Homo sapiens: one gene and its partners. The protein of the gene in region 6 interacts with the protein of the main gene of each other region in a biochemical or structural test. Each region holds a gene or a part of one and is shown on either strand. Other genes may lie near its edges.

Region 1 (3,500 bases), on a different chromosome or scaffold from region 6:
TCCCAGCACTTTGGGAGGCCGAGGCGGGTGGATCACGAGGTCAGGAGATCAAGGCCAACCTGGCTAACACGGCGAAACCCCGTCTCTACTAAAAATACAAAAAAATTAGCCTGGCGTGGTGACGGGCGCCTGTAGTCCCAGCTACTCAGGAGGCTGAGGCAGGAGAATGGCGAGAACCCGGAAGGCGGAGCTTGCAGTGAGCTGAGATTGCAGCACTGCACTCCAGCCTGGGCCACGGAGTGAGACTCCGCCTCAAAAAAAAAAAAAAAAAAAAAAAAAAAGGGCCTCAACCCTGAGGATTCTGATTCAATAGGTCTGGAGTGGGATGGATATATCTGTAATTTTTTTCAAAAGTGTGATGGCTGATTCTGCTGCATAACCCTGTATAAAAGCTATTTCCTTTAAACAACAACAACAACAAAAAACTATTAGCATAATTAGTATATTATATGCTGTAACTGCCAAGTAAAAAAATTCCGTTAAACTTTATTTTAATTTTAAACATTAGTTTTAGAAAGTTTCAAACAGCTATTCCAAATAATCTCAAATGCATTTGAGAATTTATTTATTTATTTATTTATTTTAGAGACAGGGTGTCGCTGTTGCCCAGGCTAGACTGCAGTGGTGTGAACACGGCTCACTGCAGCCTCGACCTTCTGGGCTCAAGCTATCCTCCCACCTCAGCTTTTCGAGAGCAGGGACCAAGGAACATGCCCCAGCCTGGCTAATTTTTTTTTTTTTTTTTGGTAGAGACAGAGTCTCACTATGTTACCCAGGCTGGTCTTAAACTCCTGGTCTCAAGCAATCCTCTTGCCTTGGCCTCCCAAATTGCTGAGATTACAGGCATGAGCTACCACACCTCACTGTGCATTTGAGAATTTAAAACAACATGGGCTTCTAAAAGCTTACCTGAGAACCAGAAACACCAGATGACTGCATATAATATGGCTGATTCTGTAACTTTGCATACATGGAATACATCGGATCTTCGTTCATTAACTTGGTATATAAGGAAAGGGCCTCCATCACTTTCACATTAAGTTCTGAGAGTTCTGAATGTTTTCTGAAACATGACACAATAATTTGAAGCATAGCTGTTACTAAAATGATATAATGCTCTAAATAATGATACATCAAAATATCAAAAATGGCAAAAAGTAGTACTAGTAGACATTATTAAAAATTTCACTTATAACAAAAATATCCTGCATTTTAGCCCTGAAGCAACCCAAACTGTTTAAGGTTTACGTGCTGTGCTAAGGGAACTCCGTCTTATCGTACCTGACTGTACCAGAAATATCTTGGTTTCCCTAGTTACTAACATATGGGTCATTTGTGAGCTCTGGTAATGCCACTTCAGCAAAGAGAATTACATAGCTAGCCCTTGTTTTTAAAACGACCTATCTACGCTGGTCCTTTTGACTATATTGCAAAGGTCGATCAAATCCTCACTTTAAAAAAAAGGACAAATGAGTCTAATTCTCCACATCTAGCACAAGATATGTGAATGAGAGTTGGTTCCTCCACAATATTTTTTTTTTAAAAGGCAGTTATAGCCCACTTTGCAGTACAGTGATAGCTTCAGGAAAGAAGGTACACAACATAAATGCACCCATGTTCTTTTACCTATCAATATCTTCCAGCTTTTCATCAATGAGAGGTCCCATCTGGTGACACATTGCTAAAATGACAAGATGTGAAGAAATATAAGAAAGTACAAGAAAAAAAAATGTGAACCTTTGATAGATATTTGTATAATTTAAGGAATAAAAGATTTAATTTGGAGTAATAAAAATATACATTCTTTAACCTTAGTCTACAGAACCCAAAATTGATTTTCTTAAAGTATAATGGTGACAACTTAATCTAAAATATTAATCTGAAAATCTTAAAGTGCCATTTTTCATTTTACCAGGTTCTAAAATGTTGAACAGAACACTTCGTTTGGATAGAAAATTATAAGAATTCAAATTCTACCCAAGGTTTCAACTGCATATGAGAGTGAGCCTGGGTCAAGGAGAAGTGAGAAATGTTCCATTTTTAATATTATCCTCAAAACCCATTCTTTAACAGGACACCAGTTATTAACCTCTAACTACTCTTTATTTGCAAGGTAAATAGAAAAGTTTTACCTTCAAGATGAAGCAGCTCTGGTAGGTCTGGCTGATCATCACTGGGGTCTGTACTTTGCAGCATCTGTAGCAACTGGTCCATTTTATCCTACAGGAATTAAGTAGTTAATATAAAAAGCTACCAACCTTTAGGCAACTTTATGTTTTCACTTTATTATCAACTAGACAAACTTTTGAAATTCATAGTTATGGAGACTCCAATTTTGCTTTTATGTTGTCAGTGTCCCATGTATTTATTCTCTCTAGTACTGCATGAAGTCAGAGCCTTGAAAGTACTTCCTATATATTTTTGAAACTGCTCAGGAGGCTGAGGTGGGAGAATCACTTGAGCCCAGGAGGTCAAGGCTGCAGTGAGCTATGATCTCGCCACTGCACTTCAGTCTGGACAACAGTGCAAGACCCTGTTTAAATAAATAAATAAACCAACCAACCAACTGCTAACAGAGATTCTCTTAAGCGAGAAGAAATCAAGCCACATTTAAACTTACAATGCGTGAGTTCTTCCACCTCTTATGTCATGCCAGAGGATTTTGCTTTGTTTCGGAGCAGCTTTAGCTTAGCCATGCCAACAAGTGTACTATCCATCTCAAGATGGCATTGCTTATGACTAACAACTTGTCATTCCTACTTGCCCATGGTGAATACAGCAGCTGTTTCAGTAAGGCAGAGCTCAGCTGTATCACAGCTGCTCTTCTAAGTGGGACTCTTAGGGTTTATTCCACATTTTCTTTCTACCAGTGTTTCAGTTGGTCATAAAAGGAAGGAGGAAGACTAGTGGTTTCTCTATTTTCCTATTTGGGAGAGGCTGGAAGGTACCTCAAACCAGTGACACAGATCTATTTCAGAATCTTTTGTTGTACAGACCAATGGAATGAATGAAACCATTATTACATACACACATCTATACGATATATAAGTATATATGTATTTATGTTTTTTAAAAAATCCAAACAGATCTACTTTACCATGACCACTACTAAAATAATTACAAACCTTTCTCCATGCATGGTTTTTACATGGTTATGCTACTATATATAGGTACGCAGGGCAAATAAAGACTACTAATCCTAAGCAAAGTAATTATTTAAAATTTAAAAACTATGTTCTGTGTAAAAGGAAAATAGCTTGAGAAACGAATTAATCATCAGAGAGTGAAAGTGACATAAGTATGCTAAAAAAAAAAAAAACTCTTCCCAAGTCAAAATAATTCTGTTTTTTTGAAATGGATACCAATTTTCAATGTAAATTATTCACAATTTTCATTTTAAGCAGTCTTAAAAAACAAAAGCACATGTCAAGAAAGTTTGCCTACCACACACAAAAAAAGGTCAAATGAAAGTGAGAGTCCATTAACACACAGATGGTTTC
Region 2 (3,517 bases), on a different chromosome or scaffold from region 6:
TGAGCTCAAGTGATTCTCGCATCTCAGCCTCCTGAGTGGTTGGGACGACAGGCAAGTGCCATCATGCCCAGCTAATTTTTTAAAAAAATTTGTAGGCCAGGGGTGGTGGCTCACGCCTGTAATCCCAGCACTTTGGGAGGCTGAGGCAAGCAGATCACGAAGTCAGGAGATGGAGACCATCCTGGCCAACATGGTGAAACCCCATCTCTACTAAAAATAAAAAAAATTAGCTGGGTGTGGTGGCATGCGCCTGTAATCCCAGCTACTTGGGAGGCTGAGGAAGAATCACTTGAACCCAGGAGGCGGAGGTTGCAGTGAGCCGAGATCGCGCCGCTGCACTCCAGCCTGGTGACACAGCGAGACTCCCATCTCAAAAAGAAAAAAAATTGTAGAGAAGGGTTTCTCCATGTTCCTCAGGCTGCTGTGGAACTCCTGGGCTTAAGCAGTCGGGCTGCCTCGGCCTCTCAAAGTGCTGGGAATACAGGTATGAGACACTGCCCTTGACCAAAAATAAACTTTATTGAAGTGAAACATATATACAGAAAAGTACACAAACCATGAGGATAAAACTTGATGGATTTTCAAGTGAACATACCCATGTAACCAGCAGAACAGAGTTTAAACAGAATGTTACCAGCACCCTAACTGTGCTTGTACCTGCCTTCGAGTCTGGAAAACCACTGACTTCTGGCAGGACAGATTTATAGATTTTTGCCTGATTTTATGCTTCGTATAAATGGAATTGTACAGTATATCCTTTTTTTGTGTCTGGCTCCTTTCATTCAAAATTATGTAATGTTCATCCATATTGTTGTTTATATTGTAATTTATTCATTCTCATTGCTGTATAGTATTCCATTGTATGAAAATACTACAATTTAGTAATTCATTCTACCATTCAGGAACTTTTGGGTAATTACTAGCTTTTGACTAATGCAAAGAGGGTTGCTATAAACATTCTTGTTTTTTGGTGAACATAGTGTACACAGTTCTTTTGAGTACATACCTAGGAGTGAAACTCCTGGTTCAGAAATACGCATATGTCTGGCTTTAGTACATACTGCTCAGTAGCTTTCCAAAGCGACTGTACCAATTCATACCCCCACCAGCAATGACTGGAAGTTTCAGTTGCCTTAAATCCTTGTTAACACTTGGTAGTCTTTTGTTCGTTTTGTTTTGGCCCTTCTGGTTGCCCATATAGTAGAATGGCATTGTGGTTTAAATAACTACTTAAATTTGTATACTTTCTTTTGTGAAATGCCTAAACAAGTCTTTTATTCTTTTTCCTATTCTGTGGCCTGCCTTTTTCTTATGGAATTGTAGTTCTTTTTAAATCTTGAGTGTACATTTTTAAATTACCTTCTGTGGCTTGATTCTTCACTCTTTTTTTTTTTTTTTTTTTTAGACAGTTTCGCTCTTGTCTCGAACTCATGACCTCAGGTGATCCACCTCCCTCATCCTCCCAAAGTGCTGGGATTACAGGTGTGAGCTACCGCGCCAAGCATACTTTTTCATTAAATATTTTAAAGATATATCCATATTGTTGCATGTGGTTATAATTTCACTAGCCTATGATGTATATTGTGTGAATATATCATAAATTATCCATTTTCCTATTGATATTTCATTGTTTCCAAATTTTTGCTGGCATGAACAACATTATGCAGACATTCCTGCATATATATGTGCATAAGAGTTTCTCTCATGTATATACTTAGGAGTGAGGTCACTTAGATCATAAAGTATGTGCATATTTAACTTTCTACAAGTGATTATACCAATACATACCCCTACCAGGATCATCAGACTTCTTAATTTTTGCCATCTAATGGATACAAAATTATCTCATTTTAGTTTTTCCTATTGTATGAAATATTTGTCTTTTGCACATTTTTTACAAACTGGGTTATTTTTCTTCTTATTGATTGGAAAGAGTCATTTACATGTTCTAGATCCTTGTTATATGTTACATGGGTTAGAAATAACTTTTTTGTTTTTGGTTTGTTGTACATGATCTTTTTGTTTCCCAACTTAAATAAAAAGAAGTTCTTAGAGATAGTTCACATACCACAGAATTCACCTTAAATGTGTTCAGTTGTGTTTTTTGTTGTTTTTGTTTTGTTTGTTTTTGAGACAGAGTCTGGCTCTGTCGCCCAGGCTGGAGTGCGGTGGTGTGATCTCGGCTCACTGCAACCTCCACCCCCTGGTTTCAAATGATTCTCATGCCCCAGCCTCCCAAGTAGCTGGGATTACAGGTGCACCACCATGCCTGGCTAATTTTTAAAAATATTTTTAGTAGAGATGTGGTTTCACCATGTTGGCCAGACTGGTCTGGAACTCCTGACCTCAAGTGATCTGCCCATCTCAGGGCCTCCCAAAGTGCTGGGATTACAGGTGTGAGCCACTGTGCCTGGCCAGTTCAGTAGTTTTTAGTACATTCACAGAGTTGTGCAGTTATCACCACAGTCCAGTTTTAGAACATTTTCGTTATCCCCAAAAGAAACCCTGTAACCCGTTCCTTCTCCCCCAGTCCATAGCAACTACTAGTCTTCTCACGTGCACTCTCTCTCGATCTCTCGCTATTTTTTTTTTTTTTAACAGAGTCTTGCTCTGTTGCCCAGGCTGGAGTGCAGTGGCATGATTTCAGCTCACTGCAACTTCCGCCTCCCAGGTTCAAGGGATTCTCGTAACTCAGCCTCCCGAGTAGCTGGGACTACAGGTGTATTTTTGTATTTTTAGTAGAGGTGGGGTTTCACCATGTTGACCAGGCTGGTCTTGAACTCCTGACCTCAAGTGGCGCACCCACCTTGGCCTCCCAAAGTGCTCGGATTACAGGCATGAACCACTTCTCCTGGCCTCTACTTTATATATTTCTATAGATGTGCCTATTCTGCGTATTTTTAAAATTTTATTTATTTTATTTTTTGAGACAATATCTCACTCTTGCTCAGGCTGGAGTGCAATGGTGCAATCTCAGCTCACTGCAGCCTCAACCTCCCTGGCTCAAGTGATCTTCCCTCCTCCCTCCCTCGAGTAGCTGGGACCACAGGTGTGCACCACCATGCCCCAATAATTTTTGTGTATTTTGGTTGAGATGGGGTTTTGCTATATTGCCCAGGCTGGTCTCAAACTCCAGACGTCAAGTGATCCACCTGCCTCGGCTCCCCCAGGTGCTGGGATTACAGGCGTGAGCCACAGTGCCTGGCCTATTCTGGGTATTTTAATAAACAGAATCATAGAATATATGACCTTCTGTTTTTATTTTCTTTTATTCAGCATAATGTTTTCAAGTTTCATTCATGTCATAGCATGTATCTGTACTTCATTCCTTTTTATTGCCAAATAATATTCCATTGTATAGGATATACCACATTTCCTTAATCCATCCAGTGATGGACATTTGGCTTGTTTCCACTTTTGGCTGTCATCAGTAATGCTGCTATGAACATTTATGTACAGGATTTTCTGTAAACATGTTTTCATTTCTGTTGGGTATATACCTAAGTGTGAAATTTCT
Region 3 (3,500 bases), on a different chromosome or scaffold from region 6:
CAGCACTGGCGAGGCCCCATACTGAGGAGGAGACACTGGCGATTAGGATGCTTGTCTCACCAAGAGGCCCAAGCTCTAACAATCTCAGCCCCTTTCCATGTCTGAGCCATTCCTAGGACCCTCTCCTATCTTCTCAGGTTTCTCTGCCCTTCTTTGTTGACGTCTTCCCCAGTCGCCAGTCATCCCCAGACACTACGCCCTGAACCCCACCTCTTTGATGATGGAGTAGCTGAGTAGGAAGCGGAAGGAGGGCAGCCGGGTGACAGGCAGTGCTTGGAGGCTGGGCATGCTTTCCCACGGCAGCTTCTGCAAGTCCTGGGCAAAAAGCACTAAGAGGTTACTGTCCCCAGCCAGGTATATGCAGAAGTCAGAAGGGGCATGGGGATGAGTTGGTATTCACTCCCCACTAGACACTGCCCCTCTGCCCCAGCTCCTTACCTTGTCTAGGACCAAGACAAGGTGGCTATTGCTTGGTACTGTCAGGCCCTGTAGACGTCCTACTGCCTCATTCAGGAGCTCCTGGGCTCGCTCTGGCTGGGTTGGGCACAGCCCGTAGGCCAGGGCCTGAATGTCCTGAGGGGTGAGGGCACCGGCACCACTGAGCATGATCTGCAGGGAAACAGTGGTGGTGAGCACCATCTTCATTCATGATAGCTGCTGGGAAAGGATTAAGTCCAGTTTCTTCCCTTTCCCTGTTTTCTTTTTTTTTTGACAGAGTCTTGCTCTGTCGCCCAGGCTGGAGTGCAGTGGCGCAATCTCAGCTCACTGCAACCTCCACCTCCCAGGTTCAAGCGATTCTCCTGCCTCAGCCTCCTGAGTAGCTCGGACTACAGGCATGTGCCACCAAGCCCAGCTAATTTTTGTATTTTTAGTAGAGATGGGGTTTCACCCTGTTGGCCAGGATGGTCTTCACCTCTTGACCTTGTGACCCACCTGCCTCGGCCTCCCAAAGTGCTGGGATTATAGGCGTAAGCCAAGGGGCCTATCCTTTTTTTTTTTTTTGAGATGGAGTCTCACTCTGTCACCCAGGCTGGAGTGCGGCGATCTCAGCTCACTGCAACCTCCGCCTCCCAGGTTCAAGCAATTCTCCTGCTACAGCCTCCCGAGAAGCTGGAATTACAGGTGCCTGCCACCATGCCCAGCTAATTTTTGTATTTTCGTAGAGACAGGGTTTCACCATGTTGGCCAGGCTGGTCTCGAGCTCCTGAGCTCAAGCAATCCATCTGCCTTGGCCTCCCAAAGTGCTGGGATTACAGGTGCAAGCCACTGGGCCTGGCCCCCTTCCCTGCTTTCCTCACTCACTTTCAGCAGAGTGCGGTCAGGATATTTCCAGCCACAGTCCTGTAGCAGCTCCTGTAGGCGGGAGGCCTCCTGGGCAGGGCCGGGCTCCTCACTGGACGGCAGCAGCAGCCCCTTCCAGCAGCCCAGCACAGACTTCTCTAGGGAAGCGATGAGAACCTGAATGCAGAGGGCAGACCCTTCAGTCAGAGAGGAAACCAAGCTTCTTTCTCACAGGCACTGACATTTTGGAGATGAGAAAATGCGTTTTCCAATGTGCATGTCTGTCTTACGTATCTTTCTGCTGGGAAGCTGATAGTTGGGTTTAAGTCGTTTTTTTTCTGCGTATCTTTAAATATCCATTCCCATATATTCTTCAAGTTCTGGGCTCTGAAGTTCTCCCCAGGTGACATATTTTTAAATTTAGGTCTACACTTCCAGAAGGGATTTGAAGTGGCTTTAGCACTGACCCAGGCCGTCTGGTAGAGAAGTCACTGGGACCCCCCGGGTCATTCCTAGAGCAGGCCTGACCCCACCCCAGAAGCACACACCTCCATCCTGTGGTCCAGTGCCAGCCGCCCTGTCCACCATTCTCGCTTGTCAGTACAGCTGCTGTTCTCTTTCTGTGCCTTCTGGATGGCATCAAACTCATTCAGGACTGAACGCAGATGAAGCTTTGGGAGATGGGGCTGTGAGAGCTCTGCTTGTCCACGTGATCACCATCTCTCCCTCCCTCAACACAGAATGTGAGCAGCTTGACCCGAAGCCCAATCCAGCCCAACTTTGCTCCATGGCCCAGGAATCCTACCTTGTTCTGGCCAGTGGGAATCTGCACACTGACTGGGGGACTGTCCTTTTCCAGCCGGGTCAGCAGGAGGGTGTTGCCCACGGTTCCGGGCTGGAGGGTGGCCAGGGCCAACACACACACAGTCACCCCTGACACACAGGATACAGCCAGACTCATTCAGCTGTTAAAGGAATTCCCTTCCCTGTCTTGGGCACTCAATTCCTATCCATCACTCAAGCCAGCATCAAGAAGCCTTCCCTGGTCACTAGAGGTCAAGGTGCTCTCCCTTGCTCTAATAGCTCCCTGTGCACAGAGACCATGACTTGTACTTTGTGTCCCTCACAGCAACTAACAAAGTGAGGCACTCAAATCATGTGAATATGTTTCATGTTAGCACAGAAGACCCCAGTCATCTGAACTCACCTCTGAGGAAAGACACTGAATTTGCTGGTAATTCAAAGTTGAGGTTTAAAAAAAACAACAAACCTTCCTGATGTAAGATGCTAACAGGTGAAAAGGTATGACATAAGGGTCATAAATCTATGTAAACTAACCAATGCCTAAAACTCCTTCACCCAGCTCCCAAGTAAGAAGATGCAGAAGAGGACAGAGGAGCCGGCCAGAAGGCTGCCCGCATACCACTGGGGATCAGAGCCAGGCGCTCCTGGAAACTCTCCTTTTCAGGCTGGGGGAAGTGGCCAGATTCCAAAGCCCTGAAGGAAAAGAGGCGCTGGATGCGGGCCAGGGGGACATCTCCAGGCATCTCCTGAAGGCTCAGCCCCTGCAGCTGGTCTGCTATTTCAAGTGATCCTCGGTGCTTCTGGGCCTTGCTGCAAGCAACACGGGGAGGGGTGAGGTCCCATTCCTTCAAAGTCTGGACCTTCTCTCTAGTCTGCCCCAGCAGGAGTCTTGGGGATGGTCAGCACCCACCTGAGCTGTCTGTGGAGGTGGGTGAGCAGCTGGTGGCGACAGGTGATGGAGACAGACTCGGTGACAAGGAAAGCAGTGGCATAAGGATCCCGGTGGCCCAGGCACAAGGCCAGGAAGCGGCAGAGGTGGGCATAGAGCCCACTAGGAGGACAGTGACTAATGCCCCGGAAAGCAACACTCAGGGAGTCACAGATGGAGTCCAGGGTAGAAAGACCTAGAAGAACGTCAGGACACTTGGTACAGCTGAATTCCTTATTTCATAGTTGATAGGAACTTTCCAAGAAGGAACAGTCCCTATCTCATCTCCCACATGGCAAACAGCAACTACCATTTATGAAGGGCAATGTGCCAAGTGGGGTGCCATGCAACTAACAGGCATCAACTTATTCCACCATGCTCCCTAAACCCCATTTTTACAGAAGGAATAGAAGCTTGGAGAGGTTAAGTGACCTGCACACAGCTCATAGACAGAGTGCTGGGGTTCAAACACAGGTTCAGAGGCTAC
Region 4 (3,992 bases), on a different chromosome or scaffold from region 6:
CCCCCGAAAACAAATGGGGGTCAGGGGCGGAGGCAGGTAACACAGCCCCTGTAGTCACATGCAGAGTGAATTCGAAACCAGCTCTGGAGTCACACTGCCTGGGACTGAATCCCACTTCAGTGCTATGTGACTAAGGCAAGGAACGTAAACTCTCTGTACATGTTTCCTCATCTGTGAAACAGGGATAATAATAACAGGACCTACCCCCTTAAACCAGTTGTGAGGAAATTAAGTAAGATAATTCTGTATATGTGGAGAGTTCAGGATAGCGCCTGATACATAGTAGGTGTTCTGCATAACTGTGTAAATAACTGTAAAAAATTACCTGCTATTGTTACTGCTCCTTGAGCCTCCATTGACCTCACACTCCCTGCCCAGGACATGATACATGCTTGGAAGACTCAGATGTCTGTATGCCCAGAGCCTAGCCCAGTACCTGGGACTTACGTAGTAAGAGTGGGGCGCGGGGGGCGGGGGCGGGGGGCAGCAGCAGGAAGGGGAATTGCTCAATACACGCTCCTGGAAATATTAATTTTTTGAAGTGGATGCATGCAATGCACTGAGCCCCCCTCCCCTACAAACTCTCCCTCCCACACCCAAGCAGCTCCTCCAGGACTCAAGGGCTGGTGAATGAATCTTTGAATGATAAATATTCCTATTTTGATGTCCATTAATAATGAGCTTGTAGGCAAGATGAGTCATCTAGACCTGGTTCACGGATATCCCTACAATTCCAGAGCCACAGAGTCAACGATCCTGGACATTCATTCATTCAACAAACATTAACTGGGTGCGTGGCAACCTACTGATTCATGAGTTGGAAGAGGATAAAATATTATATAGAAGCCATACTTAATGTTATTGGACACGTGTTCCCTAAGCGCCTATCCTCTGATCTTGTGCAAACTATACTTATGTGACCTTGTTTATGAATTAATGACGGCCAGCTAATCCTTCAGAAGACTCCAATTTTAGGTTTGCGCAAAAGCCCTTCAGCCTTTACAAACGAGGACCTGTCTTTCTGGGTTGAGCTAACTCCTCTGCTAGTTAAAAGCTTTCCTGTGTCTTTAAAAGGGGGAGGCATCCTATCAAATGGACCCTAACGCATAGGCTGAAGGCACGTGAAGTCCCACCCACTTTCTATGACGTCCCGCGTCCCGGCTTCTGATTGCCCGCCTGAGACGTCAATCGCAGGGCGTGTGTCTTGCTGGGACACAGTGGAGGTCTAACCTTTGGTTTGCGGAGCGGTCGGGTGTATTCTCCGCCGCCCCCACGCCCTCGAGGTCCCCGCCACCGAACCAGCGGCGGAGCCCGCCCGCGCCTCCCGCGGCATTCCCGCACCGGATCGCTCCTCGCTGGGGCGGGACCTGGCCTGGCGGCTCTGGTCACTATGGTCAGTGATCGTGGGGGATCGCGAAGGGGGAGCGGGCAGGGGGCGCGGTGGGCGGGGTCGCTGCCGGAGCGGGTGCACCCGCGGGACGGGGGTCGGACGCGAGGCTCAGCCCCCAGCTCGCCCCCGCCGCTTTCCGACCCCCTGAAATACGGAGTCCGGACGGATACTGAGGGCCAAGTCGCGCCCCCCTGTACCCCGTGGATGTGCAGCTGAGGAGGTCCAGCTCGGCCCCGAGCCCCCGCCCCCAGCGTGTCCGCCCCAGGTGGCCCGGGGCGCCGCCTCGACGGCGCTGGGTGGGCGCCCTCGACGGAAGCAGGGACAGGGAGGCTGCAGCACTACGGGTCGCCTCCTCTTTGTTAAGTAGCCCCCCAGTCAGCAGTCCACGGCCCCACCCACCCGACGGCTCGGCCGTCAAAGACCTCCTGGCCCCTGCCCCAACCCCAAGGGAGGATCTAGGGGTTGCACGGGGCACCAGGTCGTCTGCTCCGTGGGCGACTAGACCGTCTCCATCTTTGGAGTCAGGACCCACCTAGAGAGGATGCCTCAAGTTGTGAGGCGCATGAGTTAGGGGTCGGGGAAAAGAAAATACTCAGGAATCCCTGATGGAGAGCCTTGTCTGCGCAGAACGAGGCCCAGAGACCCTCTGAGCCAGGCTAACCCTGGGCTTGGGCAGGTGGGGAAACTGAGGCCAGACAGGGCAGGGCTGGTACTGATTGTGGTGGACCTGGGGCTTGAACCCAGGCTCTGGACTCTCAGTTCAGTGCTCTTTGTGTTACATCGGCTCACCTTCCAGGTTGCCGTGGGGTCAGGCATCCTGCAGGGGACTGGGTGGCATGGCTGCCTAAGACCCTTCAACCCTGAGCAGGGGGAGCCTGTGGAGTGAGGGCTGGGTGGCTTGAGTCGGGGCCACACAGCCCCAGGTTCAAGTCTCACTTCCACCTGTTGGAAAGCGAAGAGGCTTTGGTTGGTCCGCTCTCCCCCTCAGCACCGTTTTGCACATCTGTGTCATGGGAACCATGTGATATGATTAGCTGGAGCTTTTCCTGTGACAACAGAGTCCTGGAAATGGGTGTGCACAGATGCCTGGTTCTTCAAGCTTAGCCTCCTCTCTCCTATGACTGGGCAGGAAAATGGGTCACCACGGCAGCATGCTGCCGGGCTGGGGCATGGGTCAAAGCCTGGTCATGGCCTGGCACGATCTGGGTGTGGCATAGGCAGCCAGGGCACTCGAGCTGGGACTGTCCTTGCCAAGCCAGCCTGCTGCCTGGGGCATAGCTGGGGGCCTCTGGAGCATCTGGAAGCACCAGCTTCCTGCTTCCACTTGGTGCCCAAGGGTTTACCTGGTTGAGCTGCTCCTGGAAGGCAGCCCAGGTGTTTCTGCATCACCCACCAGGGAGTGGTGGAGCTGGGGTAATGATGGGCTTAGCCACCCGGGAGCTGGAGGCTGGCATGCCCTCTGGCCACCACTCGGCAGCTGAGAGCACAGCAGAGGCGGTAGCTGCTCTTTGTGCCATGCAGTGAGGCCGCTCACTCTGCTCCCTATCTGCCCTGACTCAGGAGACTGGAAGTTAGATGGCAGATGGGGTCCAAAGCCCTCACCCCTCACCGGGGGCTTGGGTGCCTTGGCGAAGGATGAAGTGGTTAACCCACTAAAATATGACGTCTGTCTGGTAATCACAGGGGTGGAGGCCATGCAGGGTCTTTTCCCTTCCCTGCACATGGCATTTATTGAGCACCTACTGCATGCGGGGACCATACTGGGCCCTGTGCTGCATGGTGGGTTTTTATGTTGAACTTGCATTGTGTGGATGGTGGTGACAGAAGGAATATCCTTGGAAAATACAGCATCTTCTTTACTTTCCTGTTTCTACATCACTGGGCTAAGCTTGAGGAAGGGCGCCCCGTGGAAGACACAAAGACACTTGGGAAGGTAGGGGTGAGACAAGGACCAGACCTCTGGCAGGGACTGCAAATAGCTAGGGTTCTCGTGCACTCAAGGTGCATTTCATGTTTGACGAATGAATGAGTCAGACATAAGCAGGAAAACCGCAGGGTCCTATTGTGCTTTGTTCTGTTATTTGTCAAACAGGCCCCCAGTGGGCACCTTTGTCAGGCCTGTGCTGGGCACTGTGACACTGATGAGAAAGACAAGGTGCCTGCCCGCTGTAGGAGCTCACTGCCTGCTGGCCAAGACAGCTGGACACAAGCAGTGTCTGAGCTACAGGTCATGCCTAAGAGGCCTAAGGACATTGGGAACACAGTGAGAGGTCAATATGCTCTGAGGGAGTGGGGGTGTTGGAAGGTTCTGCAGAGGAGGTCTTTTGAGCTGAGTTGAAGGATGTATATGAGTGTTCAAGAAGGATTTGGGAAGGGCACATTCCTTTTGGCGGGTGCGGGGGGACAGTGGGCTATCAGGCCTTGAAGCATGGTCAAGAATAGGGGATTTTGGCAAAGGTGAACAGCCTCTGAAGATGCAAGGAGATTGAGGGAGGCAGGGAAATTGAGTCTAGAAAATTTGGTGGGGTCAGGATGTTCTGTGCAGGGCCTCACTTGCTGTGCTGTGGGGTTTGGGTTTTATTCCACCAATGAGGGGGAAACC
Region 5 (3,113 bases), on a different chromosome or scaffold from region 6:
GGTTGGGCCACTGCAGTCCAGACTGGGCGACAGAGCGTCTTTGCCCCCATCACCCCACCCCCAAACAAAGAAAGAGTAATGCACCAGAGTCATGAAATAATGATCTTACCACAGAGGGCGTAAAAAACAAAACCTCAGAAAATATTACCATATTTCGAAAGACTTGTGGAAAATAATTAAGGACCAGGTAGCAGAAATTGTGATCAGAGGAAATAACATAAGAATATACTTAAGCGCACAGTACATAGTTGGAGGGAGAACTGTTTATCCTTCTAAAACCGTTACTATGATCAACACAGACAAGAGACACTTCCCTGAAAGGTTAAATTGTTTCATGAGAAATAAAAGCAACCAAAATGAGCCACATTATCTACAATAGAAGAGACTATATGGAAAAAGTTCTATGGCAAGAGCTAATTCGTTGGTATACAAAAAGATCCATGAAAAATGACCCAATTTTAGACACATTAGATATTGCAGGCTCAAAAATCAAAGGAACATTTTGAAAGCTAATTTAAATTTAATTAATTGCTGAATGTCTCCTTGGCTAGTAGTTGAACGATCATTATTTAGTCCCACATCTCTCTCGTCATTTTGTTTGCAAACTGTCTAAAAGCCTTATTTCCTCATCTCTTTGACAGATGACCAAAATGGATCCTACAGTATAATCACACAGGATAATGTTGGAAAGTATGACTATCTAAATTATTTTTAAAGGCATTATTTTTCCCCTTTGATTTTCAAATTCTTTCTCATAATTTCTAAAATGGTGTCGACAGCGGCCTGTACTGTGCCTTCACTGATGTCATCACTGAGATCACTCTCAATTGCTCTCGAACTTGTTGTTGGCCTTTCGTGTAGGTATGAACTGTGGCCCGGCAGATCTGACTGTTGTTGCTGCTGCTTCTGTTCCTGCTGATGCTTTTCAAAATAGTCTTCTTTTATTTTCTTCGGCTGTTCTGAAGCAGGAGTTACACATGATGTCTTTGGAAGATCTTGCGATGTGTTTCCGGAACTACCTTGCATGCTTAACTCAATAGTACTGCGGAGATGTTCATCTTCTCTATTGGTTTCTTGGCGGCTTAGTTCAAGGGCCCTCTGAAAATCCTCCTCATCTTGGTCTGATGTTCCAGACTCATCACTTTCTTCTGATACTTTTTCAAGGACTGTTTTATAGACTCTATGCTCTTTTTGTTTTACTAATTTTTTTCCATTAAGTTTTGGTGTATCCATCTCTTCGACACTGATGATCTGCAGGAGTTGGTCAGCTTCACAGTCTGGCAGATCACCCTTGACAACAAATACAGAATATGCTTGTTGTTGTAATCGAGCCAAGAAATTTGCAAGGCATGTATCTGATATTAATTCTGGACCCGCCAAGAGAGAATTCAAGTTAAACCAGTGTTTTCCAAATTTTCTAATAGTAAACCAGTGTTGTTTATAATTACATATAAAAGATCTTTCATTTATAGGATCAATGCCGAGCTTCTGATATTCAGGATTATTGAAATGGATGATCTCTAAACCCCAGAACTTCAAGGCATTGCTTATTACCTGAATGGAGAAGAAACCGGTATCATCCATGTTTTCTGAAGGCTGCTGTAAAAATGCAAGATACTCTTCACTGGTGACTCCTCCTTCTGCCATTCTCATCCTCTCTTCTTCATCTAGCTGATGTGCAATTGAGGCTAATTCCACAGGGCTAAAATATTCTCCTTGCAATAGATTGTTCAGACAGTGCTGAGCACACAGGAAACCTTCCTGTTTCTCATGAAAGATGAAATCCATGTTAATTGTATCCGTGAGTTTCTGTAGGTATGCCGGAAGATGTTGTATGCCCAGCTATGGCAGTTACCTGGGCAGTTTGTGGATAGCCATGTAACAGATGTTAGGTTTTCAAACCTTATGAAGACCATGGGTTTTTGCAGGTATTCAGGTAAGAGATGGTATGTCACAAAGCACTATTGTGACCAAGGTGGTTTTGCCAGTATCCAGTCAAAAGCTGATGGTAAACCTAAAGTGAATATGGGATTTTGGAGTTATCCCATAGATGATAATGGTGACTTGCACCATAGTAGTGCCCGTTGGAATTTCAGATGTCCTATAAAAATAATGTCTCTCTAATTATGCTTGTCAGCATGGTTTTAGTAAGTAAATAAAGGTGAAATTTACCACAGCACTAAACAGAAGATTTGGCAGGTAACTGGGAGAGAAATAACATGGGCTTTAACCGAATGGACACCATGGGATTTTGGAACTGTCTGGCTAAGTTATCATGATGTCACTGACCACAATAATAGCCATAGAATTTTGTAGGTTCCAGTCAATAGATGACAATAAAACTCACAGTGGCAATGAAGATGGGACTTTGCTGGTATCCTAGTTAGAGATTATGTGGACCTGAAAAACATGAGTGACCAAATGATCTTCAGACATCTAGAAAACTGATGATGATGTCCTGAACTCTTTTCTTATCCATGTGTTTTTACAGGTGTTCAGGTAAGAAATGTATGTGCCTAACAAAAGTAGTAACCATTAGATTTTACTGTTTTCTAGTTCAGAGACAATCTTTCTCAAACTTAGTAGTGACAAAGATATTAGCAGGTATCCGGGTAAGATATCACAGAGTTCCTCACCACAGTAGTAACTATGGGATTTTTGCAGGAGTCCAGTGAACAGACAGTGTGTGAAACTACTATGTTGACCTTGGACTTCTCTTGAGTGTCCAAGTACACTTAGTGGTTGCCCTAATGATTATAGTGAGTGTATGCATGGAATTATCAGGGGTCCAGATGGAAGGACATGTATCCTGACCAGGGTTGCCACCATATGTTTTCTCAGCAGGTAGTCAAGAGATGATGGTGTCTCTAACTACAACATTGGCCTCAGAACCTTAAGATTCAGGTAGAGTTCATGGTTCCCCTAACAATACTAGTCACCATGGGATTTTTTGAGGTGCGTATAGAAGATGTATCCCTAACCACTACTGCTGCCATATGGTTTTGCAAGCTCCTATCAAGAGATAATGGTGAAACTCATATTAGTCATTTTTGTAGGAATTTCATGGAATCTAGCTAAGTGATTATGTGGACCTTAAACACAGTACAGACCAT
Region 6 (3,500 bases):
AAGAAGGAGTTTCACCATATTGGTCAGGCTGATCTCAAACTCCTGACCTCATGATCCACCCGCCTCGGCCTCCCAAAGTGCTGGGATTACAGGCGTGAGCCACCAATCCTGGCGGAATAGATTTTTTTTTTAATGTGTTTCATTTCCTCTCAATTTCTCTACTATTCTCAGTATGGAGTCAGGGAGAATGACCTAAACCAAATTGTTGATTATGAAGATACTCTGCAAATGTGCAAGAAATACATCCCTTACTCCATTGCCTTCCTTGGAACAGTCAATTCTCATCACAGTTCCCAACCAAATTATAATGCATGGAGATCCAGTGGTGCCAACTATTTTAATAGTAAATGCCTTACCACTGTCATCCACCCATTCATTCATGGATTTAACAAACAATGCATGTCATTTGTGTCAAGACTCTGGGGATCCAAAAAAGAATTAACATAGTTCCTATTCTCAAGGAGCTCACAGTTCACTGAGAAAGACTATAGACCAATAATGTAATTCAATATGGTAGGCTGAATAATGTAAATATTTTAGAGATTTATACCAGATGCTTTAGAAGCATTTATGGAATCTTTGTCCAACCCTTTGTGTAGGTGGAGGAACTTTGAGGGGAGCCAGAAATGTTGACTCAGGAAGAGTTTCTCAGAGGAATTAGTACTTGAACTTGACCTTAAGGAGGAATAGGAGTAAAGGAGGTTGAGGAGGGGATGAAAATGCTTGAAGTCCTAGCAGTTGTGAAAGTAATGGAACAAGGGCCCATGCAGCATGTCAAGATGTGGAAATTGCCTGGCTTGACAAATTTCCACTCATTTCCAGCCCTTTAGCTTGAGAGTCGGACTGTTCAACCAGGCCTAGAAACTGAAACCTATTAGTAGCTTTCCAATCAAACTCTCTTTCACTGTATTATCTTTTGTTCCAACCTTCAGGCAACCAGGTGCCCACTGTACACATGAAATAAGCCTCTCTGATATTTAGAAGCTCTACTGTGATCATATAATGGTTTCCAGCTTGTTTCTCCCAAATGAGTTGTGCACTTGAAACATTTATAATATGAGTATTATATTAAGATGTAATACAGGTAGAAAGTCTTTGATTCACAAAAATTTTCTCCTATGTGATTTAATATGTGAGAACATTCAAGTTTATGGCAGCCAAGTCATTTACAATGAGACAGATGTGAAGCATGTGTAATCTAGTGTACTCTCTCAAGTCAAATAAAGATTAAATCACTTATTTTGACCATATAATTTTTTTTGGCAGTTTAAATGGAATAACTAATTTCATTCCTATATTACTTGCAATTCCAAGCATTATTTTATTTCTATTCTGTTTTTTTAAATAACTTATATTGAATGTTAGTAAAACTACTATCATTTGTTTATACTTCATAGTGCAGGAAATGCTACCCCATATGCGGTCTATGCTTTATTAAAATTATTATATCATTAAATACTTTGTAAAGTGCTTATAATATTACCTGGCATATATTGGTACTGGATCAGTGTCTATTAAATTTAGGTACAAATTCCTTAACCTGAATTATTCAGTTGTGGAATTTTGAAGCTGCATGGAATATTAGAAGTAACCTGCTCCAAATCAATCATGTCACTCATGTGGAAACTGAAACCCAGCAGAGCTGTCACTTTCTCAAGGCCATCCGACCATTTATTATTGGTGCCTGGCCTACAGTCAAGGTCTTTGAACTCCTGGGTCATTGCTACTCTCACCACACCCAGCTGGGCCCATATTTTAAGTAACTTTAAAAAATTATATGAAGTGCTTGTAAATGGAATATATGCCTTTTAACAAATGTACTGGCCAGGTGCAGTGGCTCACACCTGTAATCCTAGCACTTTGGGAGGCCAAGGCTGGAGGTGGAGGCTGCAGTGTGCCAAGATCGCGCCATTGCCCTCCAGCCTGGGTGACAGAGTGAGACTCCACCTCCAAAAGAGAAAAAAAAAACAAAACCCAAATTCACTATGCTTAAGGTAGATTTTTTAAAGGCAAGGCATCTTAAATTGTTTCAGAATTATATTCCTAGTTCTTTCAACAAAATTCACCAACCACTGACTTTGTACCTGGCATTGTATGATCTAATAACCTGCCATAATTTTCCATTGTTTTGGAGAATAATGAACAAAAAAAAGTATCATAAATGATAAATATAAAATCATTATATTTTCTAATTCCTAATGGAAAAAACTTTTTTCTCTTGTTTAATTAGCTTTTAATATAATTCTATGCAAAAAATGGTAAGAGTTAGATAAATCTGTTTCTGAAACGGCAAAAATACATGCCTCTTCTTTGGAATTACGAAATTGGAACTTACAGACTTTTAGAAATTAACTCAAAATGTTCAGGTTAACCTAATGTCATATTCAAATGTGAAATACTCCATGAAATGAAGTCTCCTATTTTTTCACACTCTTTGAGGTAGAACCCACACACAAGAGACTAACTTAGATGTCCCCTAATCTTTCTTGGCTTCAAGACCATCAAAGTGCTGTGAAAGTCAGGGAACAATAAACACCTCAGGTTATCAATTTGCCCTCTAAGCTGATGAGGGAACAGATATGTGCCATGAAAAAAAAATGTTCTCAGAGGCCACCTAGCTACTGACAGTGATGACTCTGAATTTCAGTACCTACTGTGCCTTTGTTAATGTGAATCTGCAACACTTTCAGCAGTGACTTTCTAGCAGCCTGAAAAATGGAATAGGAAAAAATGTGGACTTTTGCATTGTGAAAACGTCTGCAGACAGAACACTTTAAAGGACTGTTGTTACCTACAAAAGCATGATAGCAACCATATTTGTCTCTTCTCCACAAAAACTTCCTCATCTCAAAGACTGCTCCTTGCTTTTAGCATACTTTTTCATTTACTTGAGTAAAAAGGTATGTATCTTTAAGACCAATTCGGAGCCATACACCTCCCCTCTTCTCTGGACAGTAATTCAATCAAGATATACACTTTTTGAGCTTTCGAGTTTATCTTTTCAAATAGTCTCCATTTTCTTCCTTTTGATGTCTGTGCTTCCTACATCCTCTGTGTGTGCACCTGTGTGAGTGTGCTTAGCAAGTGAAGTATACCTCCACCATAAATGAAGTAGGTATTGGTCTCCGGGTATACTCTGATGCAAAGCCTCTGGCTGCTGCACAGCCTTCCTCCTGGGTCTGCTAGGACAGTTATATTTCTTGGCTTCTTGGGAGAACCAAATTAAAGTTGTCTATAATATTTTAATGAAAATAAAATTCATCCCATTTCTAGGGAGAATGCAGTGTGGATGCAATATACCAAAAAGGGATGATTTTATAAAGTGAAGATCATCCCTCCCATATTGAAATGGTAAGATGATGATGGGTGGGATATTTGTTTCTAACCAATGCCAACATTTCTGGATGTAAAGAAAAAAAATCAAATGGTCATTTGGTTGTTTCCTTAGAAGTGAGTAGGTAACATTTAACATTGACCTAAAGCCATTGTTGAACTGTTGC
Region 7 (3,500 bases), on a different chromosome or scaffold from region 6:
AACATAGCAAGACCCACACGTAGGGAAAAAAACATAGCAAGACCCACACATAGAAAAAAAAAAAAAACCCACACAGAGAGGAAGAGCTGTTTCACTGGCAGGAGCAGCAAAGGGCTGGGTAGCTGACTCCCCGAGACCAAAGCCCTTTTTCAGGTCTCACACCCATGCCAGGTGCCAATGGCTAGGCTCAAAGTGTGGCTATTTGCTGGAAATCCAAATTCTGCCCACAGCTGATCCTAAGTGCCTGTGCTCAGCCATGACTGAGGGGCAATGAAGAGAGGCTACACTACAAAGAGACCCTGTGCCACAGAAGAGGGAGTGGTTGGGGCAGGACAAGGTGACAGATAGAGTCAGTACCCGTGTCCCCCCTACCAGGGCCCCTTGGTTCCATCAGGGCCAGATTACCAGCCCAACTGATTCAACCCTGAGGTTCCAACCACAAAGGGATGAAAGAACAGGGAAGAGACAGAAGTATCCTCTGGGATAGCTCTGCCATAGACCCACAGCCTCAGGCCCCGACCAGAGGACTTACTTGACAGCTACTGACTTGGCCTGCAGGGCCGTGCTCCAGAAGTCATCGACCTGCTCAGGGGCCCCGTAGGCCTCCAGGCAAGAGCTGAAGGGCACCTGGGCCCGAACCAGTTCTGGCAGTGCCATCTTCTCCTCTTCGGCTTGCCGCTTCTTCTCCTCGTACTCCAGAAGCTCCTCTGGTGACAGAATGGGTTGGTGGATCCTTCGGAGGGTGCTGCTTCTTTGCCTCCTTAGCCTCTCCCTACTGGCTCTGTGTCCGTATTTCAGTTCCTCTACCCTTCCAAAGCACCCCTGACACATGTCCAATATATCTCGCCTGTTTCCATGCAGCTCTGCTAACAAGCTGAGTGTCCACTGGACGAGGTTAATCTACCTACTCCTGGTGGCCCAGACTGGAACCTTGGCTGGTGAAGCAGGGCATTCCCTGGGCTGTGCTCCCATGAGGTGCCCAAGCATTCCTCCTAGACCTTAGCCTCCCACCGTGCCACGGCCTTGCTGATGGAGCAGCCTACCTTTGTTAAGGGCTGCATCCATGGGCACAGGCAGCTGCATGATGTAGTCAACTCGCTGGGTGTACTTCACCTTCTCTGTGGCCAGGCACTTGATCTTTTCCTCCACCAAGAAGCGGAACACTTCATTAGGATTTTCAGAGCTCCGGCAATTCCTCTATGGGAAAGAGGCAGGGTAGGGAGGTCTGGGCAGCCAGGGAACAGAATGGGGCCTGAAAGGTTCATGGGAGAGTCAGGGAGAGAAGGCAGACTACCACTCGGAACTCAGGGACACAAGAGCAGAGCAGAAACCTTCCCTAATTCACCAACCCCTCCCCATTTCTGGCCCCATCCCTGCACTGAGGGACTGTGTTAGAACACGCTTGTATTTTTCTTTATAAGCAGCAAGTATTCTCTTATCATTGTCTTTGGGCATAATCTGAATTGGGCTTCAAGCCCATCAAGGGTAGGGATCATCACCTTCACTGTCCTCCTCAGGTGCAAGCACTGTTCACAGGGACACAGACTGTTGGGGTTCAGGGATGGGACTGGGTTGGGGCTGATAGAGGGAGAAATGGGCAGGAAGGAGAGCGAGTAAATTGCAGGAAGATGGGGGTGTGCCATCTTGCCAGCCCTTACCTCCACCATGTTGATAAGGTGAAGGAAGAACTCCTGGGCATCCTGCTGCCGGTTGGTGGAGAATTCAGGGTGGCCCTTGCCGATGAGGGCCTTGAACATCCGAGGGGCAATGCCATCTTGAACTTCCTGGGAAGAGTCAGGGCAGGGACTCAGCTGGGGCTCAGTGGCCATCCAGGGGCCTTCTTTAGACATCTCCCAGACCTCAGCTTCCCCACAATCCCAGGGCCTGAAAGGGACAGGGTCCTAGACGCACCTTCTGTTCTGGCACCCGCTCCCCATCGCCCGACTCCGGTACTGGCTTGGAATACTCCCCGGAGAGAAGGCCATGGCCCAGCTTGGCCCTGCATTAATATCCAAGAAAACATTTCACTTCAGTCAACTAACGACCCTGTGTGTCCCCAGCTCAACCCCCTGCTCGTGGCTCTCCCTAGCTAACTCTCAACAACGTGAAAAACCTTAGATTCTACAGGAACCCAGCTCAAGACAGACAACACGTCCAGAAGACAGTCACCCGAATGCTCCTAATAGGCCAGTGGTGGCCGTGCACGGTGGCTCACGCCTGTAATCCCAGCACTTTGGGAGGCCGAGGTGGGCAGACCACGAGGTCAGGAGATCGAGACCATCCTGGCCAACATGATGAAACCCCGTCTCTACTAAAAATACAAAAAAAATTTAGCTGGGCGTGGTGGCATGTGCCTGTAGTCCTAGCTACTCAGGAGACTGAGGCAGGAGAATCACTTGAACCCAGGAGGCAGAGGTTGTAGTGAGCCGAGATCGCGCCACTGCACTCCAGCCTGGCAACAGAACAAGACTCCGTCTCAAAAAACAAAACAAAACAAAACAAAAAAAGGCCAGGGGTTAAAGTGCTGTGCCCCCCAGGCGGTCAGGGAGGAGGAAGGTATACGGCCATGACTGTCAACAGCTTTCCTACATAGGACCTGGTTACATACACCTGGGTGCTGAAATCCTGGGTAGGGTCCGTCGGGGCATTCTGGAAGATCTTCTCCAGCTTATCCACATACCTAAAAGTCAAGGGAAGGACAGTTGGAGGGGCTCTGGCCTGAGCGCCGAGGAAAAGGGAAGGAAGCAAACATTTACTAACTCTGTGAACGGGCTCCCCTCAAGAGTGGGGAGTTGCTGTGGGTGAACCTTGGAGTCGCTTCTCTCCAGCAACCTGCCTGTTCTCCCCTTCTCAGCTATGTCCAATGTGCAAGCACGCTCGGCGGCAGAGGAGCCGGGGAGGGGGAAGGTAGCCTGGGATTAGGATAAGTGCAGTTCACGTTCTATTGGACAGAACCTGTTGACATGTTCTGAGCATTCACATTCTAATTGTTCCCCAAATTCGAAAGTAAACTCATTTCTGCTGAGAACCTGCCTTTATTCTTAGTGTGCCAAGCCCCCCTCCTCCCCAAGTGCTACATGTCCATGTTAGGTGCTCATCTGATGTCACTGCCCTAAAATAAAGACCACCTGCTAACCCTTGAGTCTGTCAGAAGGCCACAGAGCCCTGGGACTTGGCACTCTGCACTATCAGTGGGGTTTGTGTGTTGGGGTGCTGGTGGTGCAGCTCCCTAACTTGCTCCCCTCACAGCATGTCAGCCAGAGTGTGACAGGAATTATTCTTTTTTTTTTTTAAGAGAAGACAGGGTCTCGCTATGTTGCCCAGGCTGGTCTCAACCTCCTGGGCTCAAGCAATTCTCCCATCTTGGCCTCCCGAAGTACTGGGATTACGGGTGTGGGCCAACACACCCAGCCGATAGGAACTACTCTAAGACTAGAATCAAACACAGAGGTGCTGAGGGAAGCTGAAGGAGGAGTATGCCCAGAGGGTGCTGACCAGGA

The links.
Region 1: of the proteins of TRIM55 (region 6) and STAM, one has a biochemical effect on the other in vitro, tested with the Homo sapiens proteins (one large-scale study listed by BioGRID).
Region 2: of the proteins of TRIM55 (region 6) and USP8, one has a biochemical effect on the other in vitro, tested with the Homo sapiens proteins (one large-scale study listed by BioGRID).
Region 3: of the proteins of TRIM55 (region 6) and ESPL1, one has a biochemical effect on the other in vitro, tested with the Homo sapiens proteins (one large-scale study listed by BioGRID).
Region 4: of the proteins of TRIM55 (region 6) and OTUB2, one has a biochemical effect on the other in vitro, tested with the Homo sapiens proteins (one large-scale study listed by BioGRID).
Region 5: of the proteins of TRIM55 (region 6) and ATXN3L, one has a biochemical effect on the other in vitro, tested with the Homo sapiens proteins (one large-scale study listed by BioGRID).
Region 7: of the proteins of TRIM55 (region 6) and USP5, one has a biochemical effect on the other in vitro, tested with the Homo sapiens proteins (one large-scale study listed by BioGRID).

The regions. Positions count from the first base shown.
Region 1 is NC_000010.11:17,703,151-17,706,650, reverse strand, and holds part of STAM (signal transducing adapter molecule 1), read right to left. Parts: intron 2,221-3,500; coding exon 2,133-2,220; intron 1,682-2,132; coding exon 1,627-1,681; intron 1,064-1,626; coding exon 910-1,063; intron 1-909. UniProt on the Homo sapiens protein: Involved in intracellular signal transduction mediated by cytokines and growth factors. Upon IL-2 and GM-CSL stimulation, it plays a role in signaling leading to DNA synthesis and MYC induction. May also play a role in T-cell development.
Region 2 is NC_000015.10:50,511,405-50,514,921, reverse strand, and holds the end of USP8 (ubiquitin carboxyl-terminal hydrolase 8), read right to left. Parts: 3' UTR 501-3,517; downstream 1-500. UniProt on the Homo sapiens protein: Hydrolase that can remove conjugated ubiquitin from proteins and therefore plays an important regulatory role at the level of protein turnover by preventing degradation. Converts both 'Lys-48' an 'Lys-63'-linked ubiquitin chains.
Region 3 is NC_000012.12:53,288,799-53,292,298, reverse strand, and holds part of ESPL1 (separin), read right to left. Parts: intron 3,210-3,500; coding exon 2,996-3,209; intron 2,896-2,995; coding exon 2,705-2,895; intron 2,215-2,704; coding exon 2,087-2,214; intron 1,953-2,086; coding exon 1,830-1,952; intron 1,459-1,829; coding exon 1,303-1,458; intron 610-1,302; coding exon 439-609; intron 316-438; coding exon 211-315; intron 22-210; coding exon 1-21. UniProt on the Homo sapiens protein: Caspase-like protease, which plays a central role in the chromosome segregation by cleaving the SCC1/RAD21 subunit of the cohesin complex at the onset of anaphase. During most of the cell cycle, it is inactivated by different mechanisms.
Region 4 is NC_000014.9:94,025,148-94,029,139, forward strand, and holds the start of OTUB2 (ubiquitin thioesterase OTUB2), read left to right. Parts: upstream 1-1,192; 5' UTR 1,193-1,390; coding exon 1,391-1,393; intron 1,394-3,992. UniProt on the Homo sapiens protein: Hydrolase that can remove conjugated ubiquitin from proteins in vitro and may therefore play an important regulatory role at the level of protein turnover by preventing degradation.
Region 5 is NC_000023.11:13,318,147-13,321,259, forward strand, and holds ATXN3L (ataxin-3-like protein), read right to left. Parts: upstream 1,908-3,113; 5' UTR 1,789-1,907; coding exon 721-1,788; 3' UTR 501-720; downstream 1-500. UniProt on the Homo sapiens protein: Deubiquitinating enzyme that cleaves both 'Lys-48'-linked and 'Lys-63'-linked poly-ubiquitin chains (in vitro). Acts as a deubiquitinating enzyme for the transcription factor KLF5, playing a role in the regulation of KLF5 stability.
Region 6 is NC_000008.11:66,144,129-66,147,628, reverse strand, and holds part of TRIM55 (tripartite motif-containing protein 55), read right to left. Parts: intron 1-3,500. UniProt on the Homo sapiens protein: E3 ubiquitin ligase that plays an important role in regulating cardiac development and contractility, muscle growth, metabolism, and fiber-type differentiation.
Region 7 is NC_000012.12:6,858,650-6,862,149, reverse strand, and holds part of USP5 (ubiquitin carboxyl-terminal hydrolase 5), read right to left. Parts: intron 2,681-3,500; coding exon 2,609-2,680; intron 2,000-2,608; coding exon 1,912-1,999; intron 1,785-1,911; coding exon 1,659-1,784; intron 1,198-1,658; coding exon 1,044-1,197; intron 708-1,043; coding exon 533-707; intron 1-532. UniProt on the Homo sapiens protein: Deubiquitinating enzyme that participates in a wide range of cellular processes by specifically cleaving isopeptide bonds between ubiquitin and substrate proteins or ubiquitin itself.